Linked DNA regions of Homo sapiens. The protein of the gene in region 2 interacts with the protein of the main gene of each other region in a biochemical or structural test. Each region holds a gene or a part of one and is shown on either strand. Other genes may lie near its edges.

Region 1 (3,644 bases), on a different chromosome or scaffold from region 2:
GCTACTCAGGAGGCTGAGGCAGGAGGATCACTTGAGCCCAGGAGGTCAAGTCTACAGTCAGCCGTGATTGCACCACTCCATTCCAGCTTGGGCGACAGAGCAAGACCGTCTCAAAAAAACAAAAACGAAAGAAATGAGAGTGAGGTGGGGCTAAGCACTGCCTAGAGTCTGGGATCCGGTTCATTGGGAGAAACCCTGGGTAGTGAAAGTGTGGAGTGCTGTATTCCTCTGTTCTCCCCTAAGACTGGACCCAAAGATAGTGGTCAGTGGGAGGGGGTGGCCAGCCTCTTTGAGCCATTTCTTCTTCAGGCCCAGACGAGAGTGAAACTGAACTACTTGGACCAGATTGCCAAATTCTGGGAAATCCAGGGCTCCTCCTTAAAGATTCCCAATGTAGAACGGCGGATCTTGGACCTCTACAGTCTCAGCAAAGTAAGAACAGGTTTTTGTCAAGCACCCCTCCCACCAAACCCCAATATCCTTGATACTCTGGGGGCCCCCTTAGTTTGGATATTAGATCTTTAGGCTGCAATGGAAGGGGCACAGCTTGGTAGCACACAAGCTGTCATCAGAACATCTTGGAATCTTTTGCTGCAATTTGAGGTTGGGATAAGGGGATAGCCCCCAGTGAAGTGAGGGACTAGAGTTGCCCTCATTGCCCTTTTGCCCTTTCTACAGGCCTACTCCCTCACATATAAATACACGTGGCACATCCATGTCTTTTCCTACTTGTTTTTTCAGATTGTGGTGGAGGAAGGTGGTTATGAAGCTATCTGCAAGGACCGTCGGTGGGCTCGGGTAGCCCAGCGCCTCAACTATCCACCAGGCAAAAATATTGGCTCCTTGCTACGCTCCCACTACGAACGCATTGTTTATCCCTATGAAATGTACCAGTCTGGAGCCAACCTTGTGGTAAGGATGTCACAGTGGGGCAGGGTGCGGCTTTACCCTTCAGCACAGATTTCCACACTTGCTCTTAATGAAACTGGTTTAGTGGACTGGAGACCTGGGAGTTGGACTCTGCTCTTTCCTAGTGATGCTTATTCTCTTTCTACACTGCTCAGGGTCAGAGGTCCTGGAGTTATCTGTACGGCTAGCTTATTTGTTATGTGACAAAGTTTTAACTGATAGAGAAATCAGAGAAGGGAGAGCTTGGGCTAGAAGGTGTGGGAAGAGATGGCGTCTGATTTAGTTGGGGAGATGGTTGGTGGAGGAAGTGACTGGAAGGGAGGAGTGATACAAGCAAAGGTACTGAGAATTCCCAAAATGTGTGCTGGTGTCAGTGCTAAAGACCAGTGGAACAGGGGCTGTTGGTGTGGGTCAGGTGAGTGGACCACAGCTTTGGATGCCATTGGGTGAGGGTAGAGGGAAGTTATTGCTTTTGCGGGCTGGAGTCCATGTCCTGACCCTTACCCCTTACCTGTCCCCAGCAGTGTAACACACGTCCATTTGATAATGAGGAGAAGGACAAGGAATACAAACCCCACAGCATCCCCCTACGACAGTCTGTGCAGCCTTCCAAGTTCAACAGCTATGGCCGGCGGGCCAAGAGACTGCAGCCTGATGTGAGTACTCCCCTTCTTCGAACTTAGAGCTTTGAGGTGGAGGGAGTCCTCTCCTTCCTTCTGGCTAAGGCTGTGTTCCCTGTTCCATTATCCCTTCTTTTGTTCTCTGAGTTCTTCTGAGCATTAGTGTGCCTCTCTCTGGCTTCACTCTTGCTTTTTTCTCCCCTCTCAGCTGAGCTGCTGAGCTGGGTCTTGATCTGTTTGTGCAACCTCTTTTGTATGTCTGCTCTTCTTGCCTGTTTTGTTCCTTTCCGGACTTACTCTGCTCATAGAAGTAGAACTCTTCTTTCTCTTTATACCTGTATCTTTTGTTTTGTTTTGTTTTGAGGCATAGGGTCTTGCTATGTCGCCCAGACTGGAGTACAGTGGCTATTCACAGGCTTGATCATAATGCACTATAATCTTGAACTCCTAGGCTTGAGTGATCCTCTCACCTCAGCCTCTGGAGTAGCTAGGACTACAGGTGTGTACCACTGTTCCCAGCTCCTTGTAGCTATGTCTTCAGGCAGAAGCTTATGTGCCAGGCATTCTTGGCACTGGGAATACAATAGAGAACAAGATGGACACTGTCCCTGGGCTCATCGAAGCATGTAATTTAGCAGATCCTATTAGACTGCCATTTGTTGGTAATGCCAAACACTGTTAGCTTTTTCATATGTATTGTCCCTAACCCCCCTCATAACTATAAGGGAGGAGGTAATATTCTCATTTTACAGTTGGGAAAACTGAGATATCCTGTCTTTTATTCCTTTCTGAGAGAGGGCCGAGGGGGCAGCTCACCTACCCTCAGTCTCCAAAAAGCAACTCTGAGTTCTTGGCTTAGCCCATCTGTGCCTCAGCCCTCAGCATGAGATCAGGTGATATGTAGTCCGAGTTACTGTTCTTTTAGGATGGGACAGTCTGCCCCAGATAGCAGTCTTGATTCATTTCCTTCTTTCCTTCCAGCCGGAACCCACAGAGGAAGACATTGAGAAGAATCCAGAGCTGAAAAAGCTACAGATCTATGGGGCAGGCCCCAAGATGATGGGCCTGGGCCTCATGGCCAAAGACAAGACTCTGCGGAAGAAAGGTAAGGCCTAACAGGCTGGGGTGGCCTCACCTGGGGAGAAAAGTCAGGGCCCTAAGTGTCCTAGACCTGTGTTTACAGCCATTTTTCTCTCTCCCAGATAAGGAGGGGCCTGAGTGTCCCCCCACAGTAGTGGTGAAGGAGGAGTTAGGTGGGGATGTGAAGGTGGAGTCAACATCGCCTAAGACCTTCCTGGAGAGCAAGGAGGAGCTGAGTCACAGCCCAGAACCCTGCACCAAGATGACCATGAGGCTACGGAGGAACCACAGCAATGCCCAGTTTGTAAGGACCCAGCCCTGACTTCTTAATGCTCTGCTTCTTGTCCCTTCAATAAGCATTCCCCTGCATGGCACTGGACCAGTTCGCATTAACCACAAAAGCGGGCCTCCATGGGCCCTGCCCTCAGGTAGCTCACTTAATTGGGGAAACAAAGCCAACTCATATGGAACAAAGAGCAAGAAAGGGTGATCAAGTGCTGTCAACATGAAGTGCTGGAAGGGTCCAGAGAAGGAGTCTCACTCTCCATTGCTTCAGGATAAAGGCTAAGCTCCTCATTACCATGCATGATCCAGTCCCTGCTGACCTCTAGCCTCATCCCCCAGCACTGCCCACCTCACTCCTCTGCTATAGCCACACTGAACTCCTTGTAGGTATGTTCATTTTTCCCCGTAAGATGCAGTATGCTCTTTCATCCCTATCCTTTGCACATGTTGTTTCTTCAGCCTGGAAGAGATTCCCCCTGTGCTCTGCCCTGTTGCCATGTTTTGTTTTGCCTTCAGGTTTCAGCCAGTTTCAGGTGTTACCTTTTCAATGAAGTCCTTTCTCAAGGCCATCCCTCCTTATCTCCAGCTGCTTTGAGTGCTTCCTTCTCTAGGCTCCCACAGTGCCCTTTATGGACCGCTATTGGCAATTTTTAATTTTTATGAACACATGTCTCTAGAGTACTGTATATACTTGGAAGGATACCATGTCTTGTCTTTGTGCTAGAGTCCAGCGTAGTTCTGAATACGGGT
Region 2 (3,644 bases):
TGCCACGCCAAGATTTCTTCACATTTGGGCAGTGAGGCAAGGACACTGCCTTGGGAGTTGGTTCTGGCTCCCTAGGATTGCCAGAACCCATGGAACCTGAGTCTAGAGAACCTGCCCGCTGCACTGCGGTGTGGATGGGGCTGGTGCTGGTGAACTGACTGCGACTCGCTTCTCCCCTGTCTGTTCCAGAACCCCTCCTGGCCATGCTGTGACCTGCAACCTAACTTATAGGTAGAGACCGTCCCATGTCTACACAGAAAGCCTCCAGAGCTGCGGGGATGTGGCTGCCATGAGATCTCCACAGGCAGAGGGTAGCTTTTCCTTCCTCCTGTTGGGAGGTGACATAGAGAGAGAAAGGATGGCCTCGACAGTTAAACGTCACACTGACTGCCCAGCAACAGCCTCCTGTCTCTACAAGGAGAGAAAGGGCAGCATCGGCCACGGCTGTGTAACCACTGTGAGACTGGGGCAAAGTCCAGCTCCCGAAGGTGGCAAGCCCGGCCCAAGGGACAAGAGTGAAGGGCACATGGGACAGACCTGGGCCTGGAGGGCCCTGTGCAGCAGAGACAGGTACCTTGGCAGCGGCCAGCTCGTGGGCAAGCTCCTGGATCTTCTGCTGCTGCTGAATCAGCAGCTCCTGGACGGAGGCGAGGGTCGTCTGTAACTGAGTCACTGCGAGGAGAAAGCAGTCACGGCGCTGGCAAATTCACAGGCACAGACGTTCCCCTCGCTCGGTCCGCACACCTCGGAGCTGCCCGTGTTCCCGCTCCATCTAATTTATCTGCAGACACCCCCAGCCCCCGCAATCCATCTAATTTATCTGCACTCTGGGTGATCTGCCTGCACTGTATCTAACCTCTAGTATTTCTACTTTATCTTTCCATTGTGTAGTTGTCCATGGTCAACAGTATATCCGTCCAGAACCTCTCCCCTCTAATTAGAGCTGGCTATGATTTGCTGAGCTCTCCCGGCTTCTCTGGCGCCTGCGTCCTTCATCTCCTGGGCCTCAGTGTCCTTGTGAAACTCCTGGGGTCTCCAATGCTGGGAGAGATGCATCTCAGGTCCCCGCCACATTCACATCCAGGAGTGGCTCAAGCCGCACGTCCTGTTTCCCACTGCTCCTTCCCACCCTCCCCACCTGACCCAAGCTGCCTGCTCAACTCCCTGGTGTCCCGTGACCCCTCAGGACCTTGTTGCCACCAATGTCAGCCTCGCAGGAGCAAACGGCAGCAGGATGGACGTGTCAGAGGGTTTCTGTGAGCTTCACAAACGTGCTCCAGAGGGACACAGACTCCTGCCTGGGACAGGTGGCTCTCTCATTGGCCTTGCTCTGGTTTTTAGATTCAGAGCTGCCGTCTAGTAAACAAGTTTATAAAGAAGAGAAGCCACCTCTGGCGCGACAGGTCCCAGCTAATCTGGGCCATCGCTGGGGCACTGGGTAATGAACGCGAGCCCTGTTGAGTCGATAACAGGGGAGGTGGCTGGGGTCCCGGGAGCCACAGTAATTACAGACTCTCTTGACCCCACAGTCGAGTCTTAGAGGGAAGGGGGAAAATCACTGAAAACCCCCCTGAAAACCTCATAGAAGCAGAAATTAAAAATGAACTTTACAGCCCTTAGAAAGGCTGTCATTTTATTCCCCTTATTAATATTCTGAGGTTGGGAGCCTTTCCGTAAAAACATAATTAATTGAGGCCGCGCCGACAGTAAACAAGCAATTTCAAATTAAACCGAAATGACGGCGGCTTCATTTGCAAATGTGAACAGATTCTCAGAGCAGATAAATGAAGTCACCACATAGAGTGGAGACAGAGGGAGAGGGGAGGGGCAGAGAAGGGGCTGCTTGGAGAAGGCTGTGAGGGGTGACTTGATGGAGTCATTAATCTTTACCTGTCTGGGCCACGCTGCCACTCAGCTCAGAGAGACCGGCCTCCATCCTCTCCAGCTGCTTTCTGTCCTCTCGGCCGCCCAGGATGAGGGGGAGCAGGTATTTCTGCAAGAAGCGGGACAGGGTGAGGAATGCATACGGACCCGGGGTTATCCTCCAACAATCTCTCAAATTCTGCCGCCCAACTTTCTCCCTGTCATCCCTGGGTTTTGGAAACCCTAAGCAAACACCATAAATGAACAAGATATTTGAAAAAGTTATGAGACTGCGATTACAACCACGTAAAAATTCTGCCTGAATAAGGACAAGGACCAGGAGGGAACGTGGACAGGGAGAGTCAGCTGGATCTGCTGTGATGGGAACTTTTTGGTTCCTTTATTTACTTTTCTTAGTGATGCTACACTATTTCTGTAACACAAAGTTATAAACTCTACTGTCAAAGTTGTAAGATATAAATGTGGATGGACACACAAGCAACAGATAATGCTGGAGCCTCCAGGAGGCGAGGGAGGCGGGGCAGCTCTTCCCGGCATGTTCTCCTGAATTGTGAACATTTTGAACCTGTGAGTGAATCACCTATTCAGAAACAAACGAGTAAATTAATAAACAAAACATCGCTGGAGAAACTAAAGGAAAATCAACAACACATTTCTGGGACCCTTGGTTCTCTCGCCAGGGGATAACATGTGCGCTCTGAGGCTGCTGGAAGAGGTCACCTCAGTCTTTTTCTAAATGAAGCCTGAATCCTCAGAACAAACTTCCTTCACGTAAGAGTCAAAAGAAGTCGAGTTCCCCAGAAGGAAACACAAGGCAGAAGGGAGAGGAAGGCGCAGGACCAGAAGAAACTGGCTCTGGGGAAAAAGAAAGTGAATGCGGCAGGGCCACCCCTCACAGGGGCCTAGAACCAGGGATGCCCGAAGGAGCCGTTCAGGAAGGGGGCAGGCAGGGCAGGGCTGGCAACTGGTGCTCTTGGTTGCCTTGGAGGTGAGGGTGTGGAGGGGTGGAGGTGGGTGGTGGGGCCTGCAGGGACAGCTGCGTGTAGGAACATGTGCACTGACGTCCAGCCACTCGGGACATGGAGACAAAGCCCCCCAGGTGAGGAGTGAGACCCGCTGCCCCCTTCAGTGGGCACTGCCAGAGGCAGTGCAGTGCAAGCCTGGCAGGAGCTGCCCGGGGATAACTTTGGTTCTTAATCTATCTGGGCCCAGATAGGAAAGAGGACGGAAACTTCTCCATTACGGTTTCTGTACCAGGGAAGGAAAAGAAGCTCTCTCACAAGGGGTTTGTGGGAACTCATTTCCAGAGTGACTCCTAAGTGAAGATCATTCTTCAGCAGCACATGTATAGACGCATTTTCTATTTTGCAAAGTGCTTTTCAACCACAGTGTGAGCTATTACCCACAACTGAGCCAAAACTCATCAAAGGTAGCCTTACACTTCAGGATGAAATGTCCTCAGCAAGAAAGGTAAAGAATTCTTGGCCGGGCGCGGTGGCTCACGCTTGTAATCCCAGCACTTTGGGAGGCTGAGGTGGGCAGATCATGAGGTCAGGCGTTCGAGACCAGCCTGGCCAACACAGTGAAACTCCGTCTCTACTAAAAATATAAAGATTAGCTGAGTGTGGTGGCGCATGCCTGTAATCCCAGCTCCTCGGGAGGCTGTGGCTGGAGAATCGCTTGAACCCGGGAGGCAGAGGCTGCAGTGAGCAGAGATCATGCCACTGCACTCCAGCCCGGGTAACAGAGTTAGACTGTGT
Region 3 (3,644 bases), on a different chromosome or scaffold from region 2:
TGTTAGCCAGACTGGTCTCAAACTCCTGACCTCAGGCAATCCGCCCGCCTCAGCCTCCCAAAGTGCTAGGATTATAGACATAAGCCACTGTACCCGGCCTGTGGCTTTTCTTCTGAGACAGGGTCTTGCTCTGTCACACAGGTTGGAGTGCAGTGGCAAGATCATGGCTCACTGCAGCCTCCACCTCCTAGGCTCAAGCAACCCTCCCACCTCAACCTCCAAAGCAGCTGAGACTACAGGCACACGCCATCACATCCACCTAATTTTTAAATTTCTTGGAGACAAGGTCTTGCCAGGGTGCCCAGGCTGGTCTCGAACTCCTGGGCTCATGTGATCTGCCTGCCTTGGCATCCCAAAGTGCTGGGATTACAGGCATAAGCCACCCCGTGCAGCCTCCGCTTTTTAAATTTTTTTGAAACAGGGTCTCACTGTGTTGCCCAGGCTGGAGTGCAGTGGCATGATCGCGACTCCTGCAGCCTCAATCTCCCTCCCAGGATGAAGTGATCCTCCTGCCTCTAGGACCACAGGCAAGTGCCACCATGCTTGCTAAGGGGCCCCATTTTGAAGATGAGGAAGTTGAGAGTTACAGAGATAGGGGATCCGGCACAAACGCACAGCTCCTCCATGCTAGGCAGCCTGTCCCACGTCCCAGAGCGGGGCCCACCTGCCTCACAAGGTCCTGGACGCGGCGCAGCTGGCCCTCGATGCAGGCTCGGTGCAGCAGGGTCTCCCCCATGTCGTTTCGCCGGTTCCACTGTGGGCACAGCCAACCCAGCACAGGGCAGGGGCGTGAGGAGCTGGCAGGGCTGCTGAGCGGGGTGGGTGGGGGCAGGGCACTGTCCTCACCTTGCTCCCCTTCCGCCGGCCCAGGTGGCCCTGAAGCTCCTCGTCCTCCTCCAGCTGCGGGGTCAGGCCATCGGTGTCGTCCTCTGGAACAGAGCCAAGCCCACCCCAGGGGAGTCCGTGGGAGGTGAAGGTTAGCAGCCCCCACCCTGCTGCAAGCTCCCCAAACTCCCAGGTACAAAGGAGCCAGAGACGGGAGGGCTGAGCTCTGAGGCTGCTGGGCTCTGGGGGCTCCTCAGCAATGGTCCCAGCGCTGCCTCCATGTCTCCCTGACCCTGCTGGGACCCTGCTCCTGCCCACCATCCCTCTGCCCACTTGAGACACACCCCTGAGCTTTCTGCCCTAACCCACGCCTGGCCCTCCCACAGAAGGCCTGCCCGAGGCCCCCTCTGTCCATGCGCCAGCCACTCATCCCCACGCCCAGACCGGCTCGTGGGCCAGTCTTCCTCCACCCCACGCCTTATCCACCCCCATCTCCTGAGCTGTGTCGTCAGGCCAGGTCAGCCCTGGAGCCTGGGTATCCTGCACCTTGCAGCCTCCACCCTGCCTAGGCAGCAGACACACCCGCCTCCGTCCCTGCTTCGGGTGACCCCTCATCACCACGCCCTTCACACCCTGCCAGCTGCCTCTGGGTCTTTCCGCAGCTCCTCACTGTGCCCACCAGCTGAGCAGCATTCCCCAAAATTCTAGATCCTGATCCACCTCCCCCCAGCAACCAACCTGGCAAGGCCCCAACTTCCCACAGCTGCCTGGCCACTCAGGGTTCTAACGACGCCCTCGAGTTCAGAGCTGAAGTCACAGCCTTCCCTGGAACACCCCCCAACAGGCCTCATGGACAGGCTCCTGCCACCCACCACTCAGTCAGAAACCAGCCTCCCAGCTACCCGCTAACCCCGCTCTCAGCCCTCTCTCCCTGCACCACGGCCAAGATGGCTTCAGTCCAAGCCCCGCTCCAGCCAGTCCCTCATGCCTGCCCTCCGTGCAGCTGATGTCGCCAGCCTCTGGAGGAAACCCAAGCCTGCTCTGAAGGGTTTCAGGAAGGTGCTCAGCTCTTGCAGAGGCAGCCGGGGCTCTTCAAAGTGCACCGTCTCACCCCTGGCCCCAGATGGCACGTGCCTCTCTAACGGGACCATGCCCCAGCTGACACTCACTCGACTCCCAACCACTGTCTCCTCCAGGAGGCCAAGGCCGCCCCAGGCTCCCTGCGGGTCACCACCTTCTCTGTCCAGTTCCGGGAAAGCACTGGCCGTCCTGCCTGCCTGTGGCTGTTCCTGCTACAGCCCTAAGCAGGCTCCACAGCAGCACAGCACACCCCTCTCCAGCCCGGCCCAGAGCAGGCCCAGGGAAATGCAAGGTGCCGCTGGCCCTCACCGCCCTCTGAGAGCTCCACCTCGCCGGCCTCCAGGGCTTCGCTCTCCGCTGTGGCTGCCGCCTCCTCCGCCTCCTCCTCCTCATCTTCATCTTCAGCTACACTGAGCTCCCGTAGTCTGGTTTCGGTCTCAGGGGCCTCCTGGGGCTGCAGCCTCAGCTGCACGGTATGGAGATGCTGCAAGACCTGCCTCTGAGGAGCAGAGGGATGCTCAGCTCAGGACTGGGGGCTGTGGACGCAGAGAAAGATGGGGATGGGGCACAAGGGGCAGGCAGGCTGCAACGAAGCTGGGCTCACCGGGGAGCCAGTATGGGTGGGATGGGCTCTCGCACCTGCAGCTGGGGACGCTGGGCCTGCTGGGCACAGCTGAGCGCTTTCTGGAAGCACGGGGCCAGCAGCTCGTAGGCATCGCCGGCCTCCTCGCGGGACAGTGCAATGTTCAGCCAGGTCTTGGCCTCCTGGAGCAGGAGGAAGGACAGGGTCGGGGGCTGCCGCTGTCTGCGTCCAACGGGCCCCAGTCAAGCTTCCCCGGCTGCCCAGACGAAATGGGAGCCCGGCCTCCCAGCTGCCGAGGGTGGATGGTCCTAGGAAGGAGCTGCCCGTCCAGTAAGGACACCTGTCCATGGCCACCCTGAGAACGGCAGTCCTGAGGCAGAGACATGGGTGAACCTGCATTCGGGCGGGGAGCAAGGGTTTCACCTCCAGCACGTTGCCGCTGCGCAGCCTCAGTTCCTCCTCATAGTGGCGCACGGCCCCATGGTGGTCCTTCATGTCTCCCAGTGTGGTGGCCAGGGACACGTGGATGATGGCCCGCTCAGCACCCGGTCTGTCCAGCAGCTCAGCAAAACGCAGCTGGGGGCAGTGCCAGTGAGGCCAGGGGCTGCCACCCTGGCCAGGCCTCGTCAACCTCACTGGCCCTTCCCTCCCACCCAGCCGGGGCCACACACCTGCTTCTGGTAAGCCTCAGCTGCCCTGGGAAAGTCTCCTGCCTTGGAGAAGAGGTCCCCTAGCTGCTCACAGATGACCATGGCACCCTGAGGGTCTCTGCCCTCAGCCTCTTCCAGCTGTTGCTGCAGCCGGACCACTGCCAGCACTGCCGGGAAGAGGTTCATGCAGGGGGGCAGCACAGGGGGCCCTGACCCCAGCTCTACCACCTGCAAGCTGTGAGCCCTGTGGTGGCCCCCCCACTCTCTCCACACCTCTGCCTGCCTGTTGGTGTGGGGGTTAATAGCAGGGTCTATCTTGGGGACTGGTCTCAAGGGTCACAAGAACTAACACACTTAAAAACTCGGGGCCAGGTACAGTGGCTCACGCCTGTAATCCTAGGACTTTGGGAGGCCGAGGCGGGCAGATCATGAGGTCAGGAGATCGAGACCATCCTGGCTAACATGGTGAAACCTCGTCTCTACTAAAAATACAAAAAATCAGCCGG

Evidence for each region.
Region 1: the proteins of PEX14 (region 2) and KDM5C interact in a surface display test, tested with the Homo sapiens proteins (one large-scale study listed by IntAct).
Region 3: the proteins of PEX14 (region 2) and TONSL interact in a test that uses a peptide from one of them, tested with the Homo sapiens proteins (one large-scale study listed by BioGRID and IntAct).

What each region holds. Positions count from the first base shown.
Region 1 is NC_000023.11:53,215,064-53,218,707, reverse strand, and holds part of KDM5C (lysine-specific demethylase 5C), read left to right. Parts: intron 1-309; coding exon 310-432; intron 433-741; coding exon 742-912; intron 913-1,430; coding exon 1,431-1,565; intron 1,566-2,510; coding exon 2,511-2,634; intron 2,635-2,731; coding exon 2,732-2,913; intron 2,914-3,644. UniProt on the Homo sapiens protein: Histone demethylase that specifically demethylates 'Lys-4' of histone H3, thereby playing a central role in histone code. Does not demethylate histone H3 'Lys-9', H3 'Lys-27', H3 'Lys-36', H3 'Lys-79' or H4 'Lys-20'.
Region 2 is NC_000001.11:10,621,368-10,625,011, reverse strand, and holds part of PEX14 (peroxisomal membrane protein PEX14), read right to left. Parts: intron 1,994-3,644; coding exon 1,891-1,993; intron 673-1,890; coding exon 575-672; intron 1-574. UniProt on the Homo sapiens protein: Component of the PEX13-PEX14 docking complex, a translocon channel that specifically mediates the import of peroxisomal cargo proteins bound to PEX5 receptor.
Region 3 is NC_000008.11:144,437,807-144,441,450, forward strand, and holds part of TONSL (tonsoku-like protein), read right to left. Parts: intron 3,306-3,644; coding exon 3,160-3,305; intron 3,101-3,159; coding exon of another isoform or gene 3,065-3,100; coding exon 2,912-3,064; intron 2,671-2,911; coding exon 2,545-2,670; intron 2,405-2,544; coding exon 2,215-2,404; intron 2,088-2,214; exon of another isoform or gene 1,670-2,087; intron 977-1,669; exon of another isoform or gene 930-976; coding exon 847-929; intron 755-846; coding exon 665-754; intron 528-664; exon of another isoform or gene 422-527; intron 1-421. UniProt on the Homo sapiens protein: Component of the MMS22L-TONSL complex, a complex that promotes homologous recombination-mediated repair of double-strand breaks (DSBs) at stalled or collapsed replication forks.